Regions from separate parts of the Homo sapiens genome. Here region 2 is linked to region 1. A link means that fine-mapping ties the variant in region 1 to the expression of a gene that starts in the linked region. Tissue or cell type: whole blood. Region 1 holds a variant in brackets; the other region holds the start of a gene. All regions are shown on one strand. Distances are from middle to middle.

Region 1 (9,151 bases):
AAATGAGAAAAGGACTTGAACAGAGAGTTCATGGGAAAAAAAAGTAACACATAGCTGTCAAATGAATGAAAGATTACCAAAATCACTCATAGTAGGAAAAAATCGAAATTAAAATTACAATGAATACATATCAGATTGCTATCAGCTTCTCCACTGGGTTCCGTCTTCCTTTGCTTCCCAAGGAAATTGCCCCAGATATTCTCTTTTTTCTCTCCTGCATGTCAGTATTTTCCTCTAAATTGGATCATTCCTATCTGTATACAAGCATGTTATTTCTCTCATCTTAAAAAACTCAAAGACTTATATAGCATTTGCACATTGGAACTTGCCATATTTCTTATCGCTTTGGGAATCCAGTCTCCACACTAAGAAGCCTGTATTAACCCGCTGGAGACACGTGGCACAGCTGACAGCCAGCGCTGACTTCCAGACAAGTAAGGCTCTCTTACATCATCCAGACCCAGCTGAACCAACAGAGGACTGCAGCCACGTGGGTGACACCAGATGAGACCGGACAAAGCACTGCCTGAGTCCAGCCTAAGTTGCTGGCCGACAGAATCATGAACTAAAACGGTTGTCGTTCTAAGCCACTGAGTTTGGGAGGATTGTGACATACCAAATGATAACAAAATACTCAATATCCCCATATCAATCTCAGGAATTGCCCTAATTGGCCCACCTTGGGCCATATGCCCACTTTTTGGATAAACCAGTGCTTCCAGGGGGTCAAGACGAGATTGGAGCTGGAAAACTCTGGTTTACAGCCTTAGCAGAATCATTCGTAATAGAAGAAATGAGGGGAAAGGATTCTGGGCATATATAGAACAATGACTGTCCACGACAGCCAGCCTTGCCCTGGTGTGTGCAGTGGGATGGGGTTGGCAACTAGAACGAGGCTCACGCTTTGCAGAGGGGCACACAGGCAAGGCCCAGAGCTGGAGCTGAGAGGAAGCTGGATAGAACATGATGACCTGCAGCTGTGAGTTTCTCATGGTGGAAGCTCTGGCTCTTCCTCATGATTGAATCCCTGCTTCCTGATATATTTTGGTGGGTGGGTAGATGGATAGATGGATAGATGCATGCATGCATGGTTGGATGGATGGATGGTTGGGCGACTCAGTGAGTGAGTGGCTAGATGGATGAATGAGTAGGAGGGTGGCTGGTAACATTCAGGATGGCAGGAAGTCCAATACTATGTAGGAGGATGCCCCAACTTCCTCTCAGGAAGAGCACAGTAAGGGAAACCCAGAAGCTGGTGAATGGAGATTTTAGCTGGAAAAGTTGTCATTGTCATTACAGAGAAGGGCCCCTGCCATTGAGGGGCTGACTGGAAAATTGGGTAGCGTAAAGAAAATGTAAAGACAAGGTATGGGGGAAGGGACTGGGGCTCAGGACTGGGACTGAACTGATGGAAGCCAAATGGCTACAGCTACAAGCAGGAACAATTTAAAGTGTAGGGCCAAGCAGAATATAAGCAGCCATGTGGTAAGAGGAAGATGCTGGTGCTAAATAAATTCTCATAATTCTCCAAATAAGTAATGCTGGTGAAGTAATTATTTTAACTTGTCCAGCATCTTTCCCCTCCCTTTTTTGGAAGCAACCTCGTTTCCCTTGGAGGGGAGCGCATATTCCCTCAACGGAGTGGGATGTATGCCGCTGGCTGGCTCCCGGTGTGGGCATGGACCCTGTGACAGCCAATCAGGCATCATATCCTTCTGTCTACAAAGACCGGCTCAGGGAGGGCCCATGAGAGCCATTTTCAAGATTCTTGCTGGAACTCCAGGGAAAGGGGCACCATTTTCCCGTAGAGAATGGTGACCGTGGGGTAGTGCAGCCTGCAGCAGTGGAGGCCGTCTATTTCCCACCGGGAGAGAGCCTGACGGGATGAGGCCAACAAGAGGGAAGCAGAGCCCAGAGACAGGAAGAGAAGGATGGTTCCCATTTTGCCCCCTTGTCAGTCACAGGAGCCAATAAATACCCCTTTTTGCTCTTTGGGTCGATTCATCAGAATTTAGTGGGAAAGCTTTGTCTGCACCTAGAGGAGAGGTTGTTCTGAGGCGCCAACGTGCTTCAGGTGAGCTGGGTCTCTTCCCACAACCACTTGCTCCCAAGGGGCCCTCCCAGGATTCAGATTTCCCTGGGGTTCTTTCTCTACAACAGCTCCTTCTAGGCAACAGGGACTCGGCACTGAGCCTCGCAATTCCCTGGCTCCTGATCATCAGAGAAAACAGCACAAAAAAGAGGATTGGTCTCTGTCCCTTGGGGTGTCCAGAGACAGCCTCTCCCAAGACCCCTGTGAGGGGAAGCACTTCCCTAGCCCTTGAGACCCCAGCATGTTGACCCAGGCCCTGTGCCTCCCTTCAGCTGACTGGTCCAGGGCTGGCAAGCAGCTGGAGGCCCACACAGGCTATTCCCTCACAAAGTGCATTTCTGCTGGCAGGATCCCAGCCAAACACCTCGGTGGAGCCTTGTCTCTTCAGCCTCAACCCGAGGTTTCCCCAGTCATAGCCTGTGTATGAGCCCCTCCTTTTGTGACCGCAAGCCTTGGCTCACAGGAATCCTTTTGCCTGAAGGCCCTTCTCTCCTTTCCCCAACCCAGGAGCTTGGTCTCGGACAAGGTGTAAATATCCCTTCACTGTGAAGCCTGGCTCACACCTACTAAACCTATTAGCTATGTCCATCGCATATTGTTTAGTGCTGTGTTAAAAAACACTTGTCACTTTTTGCCTTGGTTATTTGTTTACACAGATGTTCACACAATGATAATCCAAGCTCTTCAAGAGCATGGACGGAGTTTTATTCATTTTGTAATCTTTAGTGTCCAGTACATAGTTGGTATTTAATTTGAGAGAGAGAGAGAGAGAAAGAAAGAGAGAGAGAGAGAGACCAGACCATTCCTGACCCGAAAACCAGATGGGGTAGAGAGCAGCAGGAAACAAAATTTAAATGCTCTCTGGGAAGTTCAGTCCCCGGGGTTAGAGACCATGTCTTAGGCAATTTGAATGGCCAGAACTGAATGCAGTGCCTGGAACATAAAAGGTGCTCCGTTAAAATTTACTGAAGGAATGAGGGGGCATGACCCCAACTACTGTTATCGAGAGGGGAATGAGGGGAATGGGTTTGCAGAAAGGGCCAAGCATCCCTTTAGTGACAATCCCAGGTAGAATCTGCCTTCTAAGATGCTACATTTGGGCCAAGCATGGCCCCCTCCCACCACCACCTGCACACAGATCCACATCTTATGGCTCTGATGGACTCCTTGGGCTCCATGACTCTTTCATGTCTGACCAAAGCTGGAGGAGAGGGCAGAGCCTAAAGAGCCTAAAGGAGCCCCCACCGGCTGGGAGTAGAGGCTGAGGAAACTGACATATCAGTAACTGCTGGTCCTTTTTTTTTTTTTTTTTTTTTTTTTTTTTGAGACAGGGTCTTACTCTGTCACCCCAGGCTGGAGTGCAGTGGCATGATCACAGCTCACTGCAGCCTCGACCTCCTGGGCTCAAACGATCCTTCCACCTCAGCTTCCTGAGTAGCTAGGATCACAGGTGTGTACTGCAACACCCAGCTAACTTTTTCTGCTGTATTTTTTGTAAAGACATGGTTTCACCATGTTGCCTGGGCTGGTCTTGAACTCTTGAGCTCCAGTGATCGACCTGCCTCAGCCTTCCAAAGCGCTGGGATTACAGGTGTGAGCCACCACGCCCAGCACCAGTCTTTATCTGAGCTGAATTTGGCTGACTTTGAGTGTGGCCCAGGATATGACTGCATATAGAATGTAATTTCAGTGGATTTCTGATCCCTAAAACACACCCTCTCCACTCACCTACTAATATCCACCCAAAAATACATGCTTAGAGAGTCACTCTTTTGGCTAAAATTATAATAATGGTGTGTGGGAGCTGGCTGATATCAGCACATGAGAGCCAACTGTTAAATTTTCAGGAATTTTCCCAGTTGGTTGTTAAATCATTGGTAACTTGAAATTGGCTGTGGTGGGGGCAGACATTATACATGAAAGTTCATTCTGTATGCCCCAGCACACCACTGACTAAACACTTTTCTTCCATTCAGAAGCAAATGCCCTTGAGAGATATATAAAGCCTTATCAGTTATTTATACCTTTGTGTTAAATACTGAGTCACAGACCATTGTCCCAGTTAGATGGGGACTGGAAATCATTAATCTAACCTTTATTTAGTAAATGAGAGAATTGAGACCCAGAAAGGTAACATGACTTACTGAAGATATAGAATTAGCTAGTTTCAGAGTCCAGACTGCAACTGAAGTGCTCTGATTCTCAGTAAACGGGATGCCATAATAGACATTATATGCTTATATTTACACCCAGCATCCCTTCCTCCCCCCAACCCCCATATTAACCCTGGCCAGACCATGCAGTACAAGTGGAGCTAACCCCTAGCCTGTCTGCGCTCAGGGATGGTCACATGACTAAACCTGCTCCATTAGAGTATTCTGTCTTCCTCGCCATTGTAACTGATTAGGGGAAGAACATATTAATGCAGGGATGTTTTTGTAGGCCTGGCATCAAGACCCCCATCTTCTAGCAATAGTATCAATTTTGCTTTGAAGAGTCAACTATTCTCCACGATTATAATCTCTTTTTTTTTTTTTTTAATGGAATCTCTCTCTGTCGCCCAGGCTGGAGTGCAGTGGTGCAATCTCGGCTCACTGCAATCTCCACCTCCCAGGTTCAAGCAATTCTCTGCCTCAGCCTCCTGAGTAGCTGGGATTACAGGTGCCTGCCACCACTCCCAGCTAATTTTTATATTTTTAGTAGAGACGGGGTTTCATCATATTGGTCAGGCTGGTCTCGAACTCCTGACTTCAGGTGATCTGCC[T/G]GCCTTGGCCTCCCAAAGTGCTGGGATTACAGGCGTGAGCCACCGTGCCGGCCGATTATAATCGCTTGATGAGGCTATCAGGTAATGTCAATCAGCTGCTTTCTCCCCGGACTTTAAATCTTAACAGAATGAAACAAGACCTGGACATAACCCTTGTTTGTTTCTCCTTCTTGGATCCATCCCAGAAGTTGCTCATATTCTGTGGCTACACGAACACTGTTCCAGCCAATTTCCTTTTTTGCTTAAGCTATCCAGAGCTGATTTTTGTTGCTTGCAACCAAAGGATCCTGACTTACACAGTAGAATTTTTGGAAGTTGTATTAGCTTTCTATTGCTGCATAACAAACTATCACAAATGTAGTGGCTTAAAACAACACATTTATGATCTTACAGTAATGTAGGTCAGAAGTCCTGATATAGCATGGCTGAGTTCTCTGCTCAGGTACTTACAAGGCTGAAATCAGTGTTGGCTGGGGCTGCAGTTCTCATTTGAGGCTCAGGGTCTTCTTCCAGGCTCATTGGTTGTTGGTAAATTTTATTTCCTCTCAGTTATAGGAGTGAGTTCCTGTTTTCCTGCTAATGATTGGCCAGGGAATGCTCTCAGGTCCCAGAAAACACCTGCAGTTCCTTGCCAGGTGGCCCCCATAGGCAGTTCACAATGTGGATGTTTGCTTGCTTCTGGCCCAAACACAGAGCATCTCTCTGACTTAGTCTTCTGGAACCAGCTGGAGAAAACTCTGATTTTAGAGGATATGCCTGATCAGGTCAGGCCCACCCAGAACACTCTCCCTTTGCCACATAAAACCGCAAAAGCACAGGAGTGATAGCTCATCGTATTCACAGGTTCTTCTTACGATCACGAAGATTGTACCATGGCGTGTCAATCTTGGAGGCCACCTTAGGATCCCATTTCTCACAGAAATGCTGTTCAAAAAGATGCTCCCTTCTTCCTCTGGGAAGATCAGACACGCCTGGTGTTCATCTTTTTCACCAGATGGAAGAAGCTTGCCTGGGAATGAAGCCAACACAGAGAACAGCTGAGCAAGAGACATAAAGACAGGCAGAGCATTTGCTGCATTGTTGAGAACCTGGATCGTGCCATGCCTAGCTGCCTGTCCCAGGGGCTTTTCCATCTCACGAGCCAATAGCTTTTTTCTTAAGTTATTTGACTTTGATTCTGCAACTTGGAATTGAAATGGTCTTGAGTATTACAGATGCTGAAATTGCATGGCTATTAAAGACATGTTTGCAAACTTCACAGCTGGCACAAATCCACTTTGATGGGAGATTTACCTAGTGCGCCCTACCCCTCAAAAGACTAATTGCCCTTTAAAAAATTAACCGCACAATTTTGGGGCTTTTTTTTAGTGAGACACTAAGGAGGAAAAACACACCTAATGTCCAAACACTCCAGAAAAAAAAAAATGAAAGTAAAAGGCTGCACAAAGATTTTCTATCAAAAGCCACTGTGAAAGATGGCAAAAAAAATAAGCTGGGGACATGGGTAAGATTAGAGAGATACTATGAATGGATAAGATGAATTGCAGTTGACCCTTGAATGACTCAGGAGTTAGGGCTGCTGAACCCCATGAAGTAAAAAAAATCTGCGTATAACTTTTGATTCTCCAAAAACTTAACTACTAATAGCCTACTGTTGACCAGAAGCCTTACTAACAACATAGTCAACTAACACCTATTTTGTATGCTGTATGTATTATATACTGTGTTCTAACAGGAGAGTAAGCTAAAGCAAGGAGAATGTTATTAAGAATATCATAAGTACGAGAAAATGCATTTACTATTTATTAAGTGGAAGTGGATCATCATGAAGGTCTTTCTCTTTTTTTTTTTTTTTTTTTTGAGACATAGTCTCACTCTGTTGCCCAGGCTGGAATGCAGTGGAGTGATCTCAGTTCACTGCAACCTCCTCCTCCCTGGTTCAAGCAATTCTCCTGCCTCAGCCTCCTGAGTAGCTGGGATTACAGGTGCCCACGACCATGCCCCGCTAATTTTTTGTATTTGTAGTAGAGACGGAGGTTTCACCATGTTGGCCAGGTTGGTCTCAAACTCCTGAATTCAGGTCATCCTCCTGCCTCAGCCTCCCAAAGTGCTGGGATTATAGGCATGAGCCACTGTGCCTGGCCATCACAAAGGTCTTCATCCTCATTGTCTTCACATTGAGTAGGCTGAGGAGAAGGAAGAGGAGGGTTGCTCTTGCCATCTCAGGGGTGGCACAGGTAGAAGAAAATCCATGCATAAGTGGACCCATGCAGTTCAAACTCATGTTGCTCAAGGGTCAACTATAGTTATATATAACCTACTAAATATTGCTATTGATAGCCAAGCCCCTTTAATTGGAAAAAGAACCTTTTTTGCTTTAATGGGGGTGTCTTACATTTGTGTGTCATTTTCACATATTAATATATTGTATTTTTTAAATTTATTTTTGAGACAGGGTTTTACTGTCACTCAGGCTAGAGTGCAGTGGTGCAGTCATAGCTCACTGCAGCCTTAAATTCCTGGGGCCAAGCTACCCTGTCGTCTCAGCCACTTGAGTAGCTGGGACTACGGGTGCACACACCACAATGCCCGGCCAATGTTTTAATTTTTTTTTAGTAGAGATAGGGGTCTCCCTGTGTTGCCCAGGCTGGTCTTGAACTCCTGGCCTTCACGGATCCTCCCACCTCGGCCTTCCAAAGTGCTGAGATTACAGATATGAGCCACCATGCCCAGCCATATTGTCTTTTTAATCTTGATGACTCAGTAAGGTTGTCAATATTGGTGTACCGTTTCCATTTTATTTATTTATTTATTTAAATTAAAAAAAAAAAATTTTTGAGATGGAGTTTTGCTCTTGTTGCCCAGGCTGGAGTGCAATGCCGCGATCTCGGCTCACTGCAACCTCCGCCTCCCAGGTCCAAGCGATTCTCCTGCCTCAGCCTCCTAAGTAGCCGGAATTACAGGCCCCCCACACCACAACCGGCTAATTTTTTGTATTTTTAGTAGAGATGGGGTTTCACCATGTTGGCCAGGCTGGTCTCAAACTCCGGCTGCCCCAGCTTCCCAAAGTGCTGGGATTACAAGAGTTAGCCACCATGCCCAGCCAGTTTCCATTTTGTAGTTTAGGAAACTTAAAATTAAGTTATTTTTCTAAGGTCACAAAGCTGGTAGAATCAAAACTAAAACTCAAGTTTTCTGGGTGCTGGTTCACAGTAGTGGAAGAACATGAGCTTTAGAACAGGTTAGACCTAGGTTCAAATTCCAAATTCCATCTACTAGCTGGCTGTATGTTTTGAACAAGTTAATAAATATCTGAAATCTTTTGTCCCACATTGGCTAACAATGCCTACTGTACTGTCTTGTTGGAGGAATGAGTAAGATGATGTAGGTTATGTGCCTAGTATATAGAAGGTGTTGGGAAATGTTACATCACAGAGAGGAGGAGAGGACTGTAAAATGTTTGCTGGCAACTGCTCTGGGAAAAATCCTTCCAGGAATGATTGGAACCCAGCATGGGGAATGGGGTCACTGTCTTGGTGGAAAGGGTGGGAGATGAAGAGGAGGAAAGAGGAGGTGGTGTGGACAAGCCCTCCTATGGGGAGGTGAGGGAGGCCCCACATTCCCAGAATAGGGACCTGTGTGCTTCCTCTTTTTATCCCTCCAAAGTTCTTGAGCACTAGGTCAGAATTTAATGCACCTGCCTCTCATTCGTTATGAATAGACAGTTGCAATTCCTGGGACTGTTGGAGGTGATGGGTTTATTCTCAGAAATCTTAAAAAGGCATTTTCTGGGCACCTGAGCAAACACAAAATTATCCTGTGGAATGAGCAAGCTTCGAACGCTGAGACCCTGGGGCATCTGAAGGACCAGCTAATAACCATGTGCTAAGCAGTGTGTATTCCTAAGTTCCTCAGCTCTGCTTTTTAAAACCCCCCACCCCCCGTGCTCTGACTTGACCAAATGGTCTTCCCTCAGTGGGGTGTGTGGAAAGCAGCTGCTATGGGAATGCACAAACCTGGGATCTGCTCTCAGCTTTGTCCTTTACTTGCTGTGTGACTTTGACCAAATCACTTCCCCTCTCTGGGCCTGGGTGTCCTCAGCTATACAATGAAGAAGCTGAACTAGATGGTCTCCACAAGATGTCTTCCAGCTGGAAATTAAATTTTCGTATAATGATTCCTGCTTCTCCAGTGCCCCTTTCTCTTTCAGCTCCACTAGCTGTTACCTCCCCACAGGGTTGTGCTGTGTGCTGCCTCTGGGCCACATCCCAGGCATGCAGTGATGGCCCATGTCC
Region 2 (9,211 bases), 25 kb after region 1:
GTGCAGTGGCACAATCATGGCTCATTGTGGCCTCAACCTCCAGGGCTCATGTGATCCTCCCATCTCATCCTCCTGAGTAGCTGGAACTATAGATGTGCATCACCACACCCGGCTAATATTTTTTTATTTTTTGTAGACATGGAGTTTCACTGTGTTGCCCTGGCTGGTCTCAAAATCCTAGACTCAAGTGATCCTCCCACCTCGGCCTTCCAAAGTGTTGGGATTACAGGCATGAGCCACCAAGCTGTCCTCTATCTGCATTTTATTATTTAGAAACAGAATCAAGCTCTGTCACCCAGGCTGGAGTGCAATGGCGTGATCTCAGCTCACTGCAACCTCTGCCTCCCAGGCTCAACTGATGCTCTCAACTCAGCCTCCCAAATAGCTGGGACTACGGTCGTACACCACCATACCCAGTTAATTTTTGTATTTTTAGTAGAGGTGGGTTTCACCATATTGGCCAGGCTGGTCTCAAACTCCTGACCTCAGGTGATCCGCTCACCTCGACCTCCCAAAGTGCTGGGATTACAGGCTGGAGCCTCCGCACCCGCCTCTATATGCATTTTAAACAAACATCCCAGGTAGCTCTTACGCAGCTATAGGCAGCTGGGTATTGTTAAAGGTTTCTGGCCAGAGGGCAATGCTGTGACAGGTATTTTTGTTAATCTATTTGGGTAGGCAAGGTGGATGGGGCAGACAGGAAGACTATGTAAGAGCTGTTCTAGTACTTTTAGGCATGAGATGATAAGCTTAAGGATGAGGTGGCAGGAATGAAGAGGAAGGGGCAAGGACAGAGGTAAAGAAGGCAACAAAAAACTGTCAGGACTTGGGAACTGAGGGATTTGGGGAGGCAGTGAGAACCAACTGGGTTTACTGAGAAAACAATAATTCCACTAACAGAAATGCAGAAGATCAAAAGCAGCTTGTTTCAGGAGGAAGAAGGACTGGATTTAAACATGTTGAATTTGAAGTGGTGGCAAAGTAACGAAGCAAAAATGAACAGCAAGCAGAAATATAGAGAACTTTGAAGAGGTCAGAAATGGACACACATCTGGAAGTGAGTCCTAGTAAGGACTAGAAGAGAATGTATACAACGAGAGTGTATACAATCTTCTGAGGATCGCTGCAGGGAACAAAAGAGTAGGAAACTGACTTTGAGGGATACTTATTTTAGTGGGTCAGAGAAAAAAAACCAAGAGTGACCAGAACAGAAAGGGGCACATCACAAGAAAAGAATGCCAAAATGGAAGGGAGGCTAATAGTAAGAGGTCTTGGTGCAAATAATCAAACCCCAAGATTTCCCTTCAGACTCACTGGCTCTGCAGCCAAACACGGTCCCACTATAAGCTAACATCAGCAACACTGTCCTACAGACATTTACTATACAAAAATGCCACAAAGAAAGAGACATACAAAAGAAACAGCCCAGTGGTAAGTACGTTTGAAGCTCACAACATATCTCTAAGTTACAGAGGACAGGTATTTTACACATGAGAAATGGTCCCAAACCTAGGTCTTTTTGTTCCTTCTGAACGATTTCACCCCCTGTCAATGAGAAGAAATGCAGAGCACCCTGGAGGTCAGGAGGAGGAAAAGAAAAAAGCAGAAACTTTGACCTGCTAATTGATGGAATCAAGTCAGACAAATTCTAATGTGGCCACTTCTTTTCACTGCCATCATGGAAACCTAAAGCCCTGGGTAGGTTCCTTGCCACTGCCCTGTCTATTTCTAGAAACATGAAAGACCTGGGCTAATGTCCTACCTGACAGCCATTAGCTGACTGGTCACAGGGTAAGTCCCTGCACCTCTGAGTCTGTGTTTCCTCACTTCCTAAATGGGGACAATAATACCAGCAACTCCCTAGTCACCTCACAAATTTAAATATGATTATGTATTGGTCAATCTCCCTCCTCCCCCATTAGAATCATCAGGGAGTGGTTTGTGGGGAGGCGGGAAGGGGTGTTGTCTTAAAATAAAATGTGCTTTCAATAAAATACCTTGGCATCCCATTTTTAAAGCCTTCTTAGGTGACTATGATTTGCAGTCAAAGTTGAGCACCACTGATGGAGTGGAGTGAGTTTGTTTTGAGCAAACGCCTAAAGGTGTGGAATGGGCTGGGAATAAGAAAATGGTGAACTGGGGTGTATCTGCCTTAGCTAAAAGAGGGCACTGCTTCTGTTTTTGCTCAAAGAGTGCAGGCCCACAGTGTCACTGGATCTTCCCATTTTTCAAGAAAAGTTAGAGATTTACATTTTAAAGTAAAATCTAAATTTTAAAATGTTGGTAACAAATTCAAATTTATTAAAAACAAAACAGAACTTTGTGTAGGCCAAACCGGTCTGTGGGACATATTCAGCTGATGGGCCACCAGCCTGTGATAGGTGGTTTGAAGAAAGATGAACCTGAGATGAAACTAGGGGTTTGCCCGCTGGCTTTAAACAAGTTACTTAACCTAGGTAGGCCTCAAGTTCTTCATCTGCAGAATGGGGTATATAATACCTACTTCAAAGAATTAATAGAAGAGACAACGAATGGAAGGCAAATGGAAAAGTGATTAATCAAGCATCAGTTTCTTGCATCCTGTCTTTATCAACAATGTTGTACTTTCAGAGTTGAACTCAAATGTGAGAGCTTTGTCAAAAAGACCCTCCATCAAATCAGGCTCCATTCCTGGACTCTGTGTGTCTCCGGCCTCCCAAGCTGGGTGTCTGTGACCCCATCCCTGAGACAGCAGAGATCCATCAGAGTTGTAAGTGTGGCCCTGCACCAGAAGGTGGGCAAAGGGCGAGGAAGAGATACACCTTCAATCAGCTCTGCATCTTACTGAGGAGCCACTATGCCTGTGGAGGCCTAAAGACTGCAGTAATCATTGTAATCGTCCATGATATTGTACGTTAGCGTCTTGCTGCAGGAGGGAAAAGCTTAATTCAGGAAGGGTAAGAGAGTGAGAAACCCTGAAGTCACATATTAAAGTGCTTAAGTACCTAACAATCTCTATGCCCTGTAAAACCTTTAAGAATAGGAGCCCAGGCAGGGCGCGGTGGTTCACGCCTGTAATCCCAGCACTTTGGGAGGCTGAGATGGGTGGATCACGTGAGGTCAGGAGTTTGAGACCAGCCTGGCCAACATGGTGAAACCCCGCCTCTACTAAAAATACAAAAATTAGCCGGGTGTGGTGGCACGCACCTGTAATCCCAGCTACTCGGTAGGCTGAGGCACGAGAATCGCTTGAACCTGGGAGGCAGAGGTTGCAGTAAGCTGAGATAGCGCCACTGCACTCCAGCCTGGGCCACAAAGTGAGATTCTGTCTCAAAGGGAAAAAAAAAAAAAAAGAGAATAGGAGCACAGTTAATAGAGACACTGGGCCCCAAGACGACTGAGAACCACTCACGGATGAGAAGTCCTCGGGCTGCTGGCAGAGAATTTACCCCAGGTGCGTGGCCCAGTGGCGGAGGCTTGTGGGAAATTCCTGGTACCCAGCTGCCCAACATCTGGGACGCTGCAACGCCCACCTACCTGCCTGCGCGGCAGAGAAGCAACAGCCGTTCGAGCCACGCTCCACTTCCCGGGAAGAATTCTGGGGAGAGTGAAGGCTCGCTCTGTGGCCGCCCCGCCCACAGCCCGCCTGGGGAAGCCGCGGGCCCCAGCTCACCTGCAGGTTGCTCACGGAGAGCTGCAGCGGGCTCAGGTAGAAATAGGGCACGCCGCTGCCCGCGCCCGGGGGCCCGTCGCTGAGCGAGAGGACGTCGGCGAAGGGCCGGCCGCGCACCGCCTCCAGCGTGGAGATGGTGGCCAGAGCGCCCCAGTCGGAGACGTGCGTCACGAAGCGGGCCACGCGCGCCGCGTCCTCGCGGGGTGGTAGCGGCGGCAGCCGGGAGGCCTCGTCCCAGTCCCCGTGGTCCCGGCCGCCGCGACCCCGCGCGGGCGACACGAGCAGCGCCAACAGCGTCGACGCCAGCAGGGCGGCGAGCAGTGCGCGCGCGGACCCGCGGGATAGCCCGGCCATGGCGGTGTCTCCAGGAAGAGTCCCGGGCCCCAAGACCTGCAGGGACCCAGCCGGAGCTCGGCGCGCCCAGGCCCCGCCCCCTCCGCGAGGCGCCAATCAGAGCTAAGCACAATGCAGGGGGCGGGGTCCCTCTGCAGCTCCGCAACCTGCAGGAGAAGGGATTGGTTCATCTGCATTCCAATCGCTCTGCCTGCCCTCTTTAAGGATTGTGAATTTGTCCTAAACGGGATATTTGTTTTGTTTTGTTTGACAGGCGGAAAAAGAAAGGCTTGAAGAAATCAAGCAACTTGCCCAAATCGTACTGCTAGGAAAAGACCAGCCTCTTTACACAGGCACACACCCCCTCCTTTTAATACCTTTGGAGATGAATATCTGGCATCTGAGAGGAAATGCTGCATTTTCTACCCATGCGCCTCTTTTCTGTTGAATTTACCATCAGCTCCAAAGAACAGCGAGGGTCCCAGCGTTGTAGAAGCCCAGACTCAGGCTCGTGTACCCCATGTGTAGCTGATGCCAAACACTGACATATAGGTGCTTGGAGATAAAAGTTTATTCGATTTGGCCAAAGCGAGAAGGCGGGAGGGCAAGATCTCTCAAATCCGCCCTAACAAAAAGAAGAAGCAGAGAGTGTTTATGCGGCCAGCGAGTCAGGGAGGGGGAGTTTCAGGGAATCGAGGGAAAAAGTCTGTGTTTCTTCAGTCTCAGATAATTCCTTGAACAATCAGACTTCTGGGCGACAGAAGCTGGCCTCAAAGTACTTCAAAGGACTTATTCCTCCTGCAAACTTTTTCGTAACCCTGAAGTTATTATCTCCTCCTGCTTGATAAAGAAACAGTACATCAGCAGTTTATGATTATGTTGTAGGAACAAGGGATATTGGGCAAAAAGAGAGTTGTCAACATGTGCAAGCAAGGGCCTGATCAGAATTTTCATTATTTCAGTCACTAACAAATGCTGGGGTGCTGAAATCTCAAGGGGCCCACTTACACTAGTAGTAAAGTTAGGCAGAAGCCCGAAAGTTCAAGACCTTTAAAAAACTTTTTATTTACTTATTTTAAAATTTTTAATTTTTGTGGGTACATAGTAGGTGTATACATTTATGGGGTACATGAGATATTTTGCTACAGGCATACAATGCATAATAGTCATATCAGGGTAAATGGGGTATCCATTGCCTCAAGCATTTATCCTTTGTGTTACAAACAATCCAATTATACTTTTAGTTATTTTAAATGTACACTTAAATTATTATTGGCTATAGTCACCCTGTTGTGCTATGAAATACTAGGTCTTATTCTAACTATTTTTTGTACCCATTAACCATCCCCACTCCTCCCCTGCAAGTCCCCCCACTACCCTTCCTGGCCTCTGGTAACCATCCCTCTACTCTCTGTCTCCATGAGTTCAATTGTTTCCATTTAGGCTCCCACAAATAAGTGAGGATGTGTGAAGTTTGTCTTTCTGTGCCTGGCTTATTTCACTTCACGTAATAACCTCCAGTTCCAACTATGTTGTTGCAAAGACAGACAGGATCCCATTCATTTTTTATGGCTGAATAGTACTCCATTGTGTATATATACCACATTTTCTTTATCCATTCATCTGATGATGGACACTTAGGTTGCTTCCAAATCTTAGCTGTTGTGAATAGTGCTGCAGTAAACACAGGAGTGCAGACATCTCTCAATATACTGATTTTCTTTCTTTTAGGGATATACCTAGCTGTGGGATTGCTGGATCATATGGTACCTCTATTTTTAATTTTTTGAGGAACTCCAAATTTTTTTCCAAAGCGGTTATTCTAATTTACATTCCCACCAACAGTGTACAAGGGTTTCCTTTTCCCCACATCCTCACCAACATTTGTTATTGCCCGTCAAGACCTTTTAAACTACTGGCCCAGGAGTCCCTCATATAGACGCACAAAGGGATTGTTAGTCTACTATCAATATCCCATGTACAAATTTGAACTTACCAGTTCAGGACCTGTTAAGACATTAAGCTTGGGGTCGGCGGTTTCATGAATTTATTGCCCCCGCTGCCCTTCCCTGCTCCATGTAAGGGACATTCCTTTTGCTTCTTCTAAGATGGCCTGTCTCATTCTCTCACGGGTGCTCCTGATTCTGCTATTCTGGAAACTGGTCAATAAGCTCATAGCACCTGGCCTCCATTCTTTATGACTTTAAGCTTTGGTCACGTCTTTTTGGAGCAAGTCTTAATCTTTTTGGCCTGGCCTCAAATTTCCACTGTAATTGTTGTTATAAAGACTGTATGGTGGTGTTAGTGCAAGAGTTTGTCATCTTGTAAAGCTGGCTCTGGCAGACACCTGGCCCTGTGAGGCTGAGTTGTGTAACAGAGGTGAGGTAATTTCACTCAGCTGCTGTTGGCCAGTCATGTGAGCAGCCGTGGGCAACAGGTGTGTGAGCCAAAGTCCCACCGCTACTTCCCTTCTCAAAACCAGCCTCCTAATATTCAGCCAACTTCTCAGGCTACACAGTAGGAATTGTGTATCAGAAGAAGCAAGATCATCTACTCTGAACAGGAGACTTCAGTGCCCTCTGGTGGCCAAATGATGTCACACACCCTGATTTCGACATTGGGGTAAGAAGGATCCTTAATCAAAGTTGGTTTGCTTTATAACAACTGAATTTGGAAGAACTTCAAAATAGATGGAAAACTAAGTGGGAGAAATTCAAAAGGAGGAAAATTGGGTTCATCATTTTAAAAACAAATGATTAATACAAATAGTTTGAGTACCTGCCGGTTATAAACATTTCATCCCTTACCTGTTAAGGAAAGAATACTCTCACATTTGGAGTTCTAATCTCAGGTCTGCCACTATCGTGCCATGTGACCATGGGATTTTATCTTACCTTTGGGCCTCAATTTTCTCATCTAAAATGAGGAGTTGGATTAGATGATATTAATATCTGATGCCTCTTCCAGCCCTATATCTTCTTTTTCTTTGTGGTTGTTTGTTTTTCTTTTTCTCTTTTTTTTTTTTTGAAACAAGGTCTTGCTCTGTCATCCAGGCTACACTGCAGTGGTGGCTCACGAGCTGTGAGCCTCAAAATCCTGGGCTCAAGTGATCCTCCCTCAAGTGATCCTCCCACCTCAGACTCCCATGTAGCTGGGACTAAAGGTGTATGCCACCACACCTGGCTAATTTTTAATTTTTTGTAGAGATGGGGTCTCATATGCTGCCCAGGCTGGTCTTGAACTTCTGGCCTCAATTGGTCCTCCCACCTCATTCTCCCAAAGTGCTGGGATTATAGGCATGAGCCACTGTGCCTGGCCTTATTTTTCTATTAACATGCAAAGTATGAGCCTTTTGTAAGTTTCACAATGTGAATTTTTTTGCAAAAAGATGAAAAAAATTTATTTATTGCTACATCATTTATTGCTGGCATACAAAATAGCAATAGACCCTATTACAGCTCCATTACAAAACAGGTGCCTAGAGCTTGGTCTCAGGCATCAGAGCAGGAGAATGAGGTCTACAAACCCTCTGGCTTTAAGCACGCCACCTCAGTATCTATCTTTGTGTTTGCTGTTCCCTATGCTCAAAATGCTCTTCCCTCAGCTGCTGGCATGGCTACCTCACTCCCATTGGGACCTCCACTTAGATGTCACTCCTCAGCAGTGACTCCTAGAGCACTCTTTCCGAGAGGCCTTCCCCAGTTACTCTCCCTCAGCCAACTCTATTTCTTTCATAGCAATCATTAATTCATCACAACAAAAATAAATACTATAATAACAGTATTTATTTTTTTAGCTACGTGTTTATTGTCTCCACTGGTAGAACGCGAGCTCCGGGAGAGCAGGAATGTTGTCTATCCTGTCCGCCTTCGTATTCCCAATGCTCAGAGTGGGCACTACATAAATATTTATTGAAAGACTACCTGACAGTGAATAATATCTGGCAAAATTCTTTGCACATAGAGCTGTATAAAATGATTAAAAAGTGAGGATGAGTAAATCAGCATAAGCTAACAACCAGGCGCTCCAGCTTTTGTTTAGCAAATCCTCCTCATTGGGATATTAGGGGAAGCCCTTAGCCAGGAGTGGCTGAAATAATCATCCCAGATCCTGCTGCTTCTCATCCTGACTTTATGTTTTTATGTGAACAACCTACACTGGTCCCCATCCCCACAGGCCCACTGTGGAATAGTTATCTTTTCCTTATGTCTAGGTTTGATCCTTATGAAGAACCCACCCTGCAAACTCCTTCTTTTACATGGTGTTGCCCTTGCTTATTTGTCTAGGTCACCACCGGTTCCTTCTAGGTTAGAAGCAGTGGCTTTGTCCTTTCCGTCTCCCAGCACCGAGCACAGATCCAGGCATCTAGCAGGTACCCATTACATGTTATTGACAAAAGAATTGTATCAGAACAGTCACACCAAGGGCAGAGGGTTCTCAGGCTGTCTGCCATAGCTCAGGCTTTAGTCTTTAAAGAATAGAAAACTTCTCTTTTGTGGTATGCATGCTTCAAATAGTAGATAGCTAGTGAAACAGTGAAGAGAGTTAGCTCTGGAGTTAGCCACTTAAGCATGAGCTTACATAGGATGATACTGAACCACAATTTCCCTGTCATTAAAATCATAGCTCCTCCTTCACTGGATTTTTATGGGGATTAAATGAGAGAATGCATTTAAAATATCCATTATAGTGCCTGGAACAGAATAGATGCTCAGTAGTTGTTAGCTATGTGTTAGTAATTGTTAGCTTTTTTCTCACTATTTCTTTTTTTTTTTTTTGAGACGGAGCCTTGCTTTGTCACCCAGGCTGGAGTGCAGTGGTGCAATCTTGGCTCACTGCAACCTCCACCTCCTGGGTTCAAGTGATTCTCCTGCCTCAGCCTCCCAAGTAGCTGGGATTACAGGCATGCCACCACGCCCAGCTGATTTTTGTATTTTCAGTAGAGATGGGGTTTCACTATATTGGCCAGGCTGGTCTCGAACTCGAACTCAGGTGATCCGCCCGTCTCGGCCTCCTGAACTGCTGGGATTACAGGTGTGAGCCACCATACCAGGCCTTTTCCCACTATTTCTGTTCCCACTTTCTACTCTAAAAATCTGTAGATTGCTTCATTTAATTTCTCTATAGATTTTTCACACTTTTCACTGTGGCCTCTGCAGGAAAAAAAAAAAGCCTCTTGAAAAAAATAACTTTATAAAATGTCTTGAAAGTCCCCAGGCAGCTATT

Evidence for each region. PIP is the estimated chance that this variant, and not a neighbour inherited with it, causes the effect.
Region 2: it holds the start of CREG1, and the variant in region 1 is fine-mapped to the expression of CREG1 in whole blood (INTERVAL, PIP 0.97).

What each region holds. Positions count from the first base shown.
Region 1 is chr1:167,524,391-167,533,541 of GRCh38, forward strand. It overlaps LOC107985224 (a long non-coding RNA gene), which reads right to left. Exons shown (of 2, transcript XR_001738279.2): 1 at 8,873-9,151; 2 at 5,149-5,865. It also overlaps the pseudogene AKR1D1P1. Among named protein-coding and RNA genes, the nearest start is that of CD247, 10 kb to the left of the region's middle. The variant T/G (reference allele first, on the strand shown) is at 4,857.
Region 2 is chr1:167,549,736-167,558,946 of GRCh38, forward strand. It overlaps CREG1 (cellular repressor of E1A stimulated genes 1), which reads right to left and starts at 4,027. Exons shown (of 4, transcript NM_003851.3): 1 at 3,653-4,027. The coding sequence starts at 4,006. RefSeq lists a silencer at 3,716-4,165.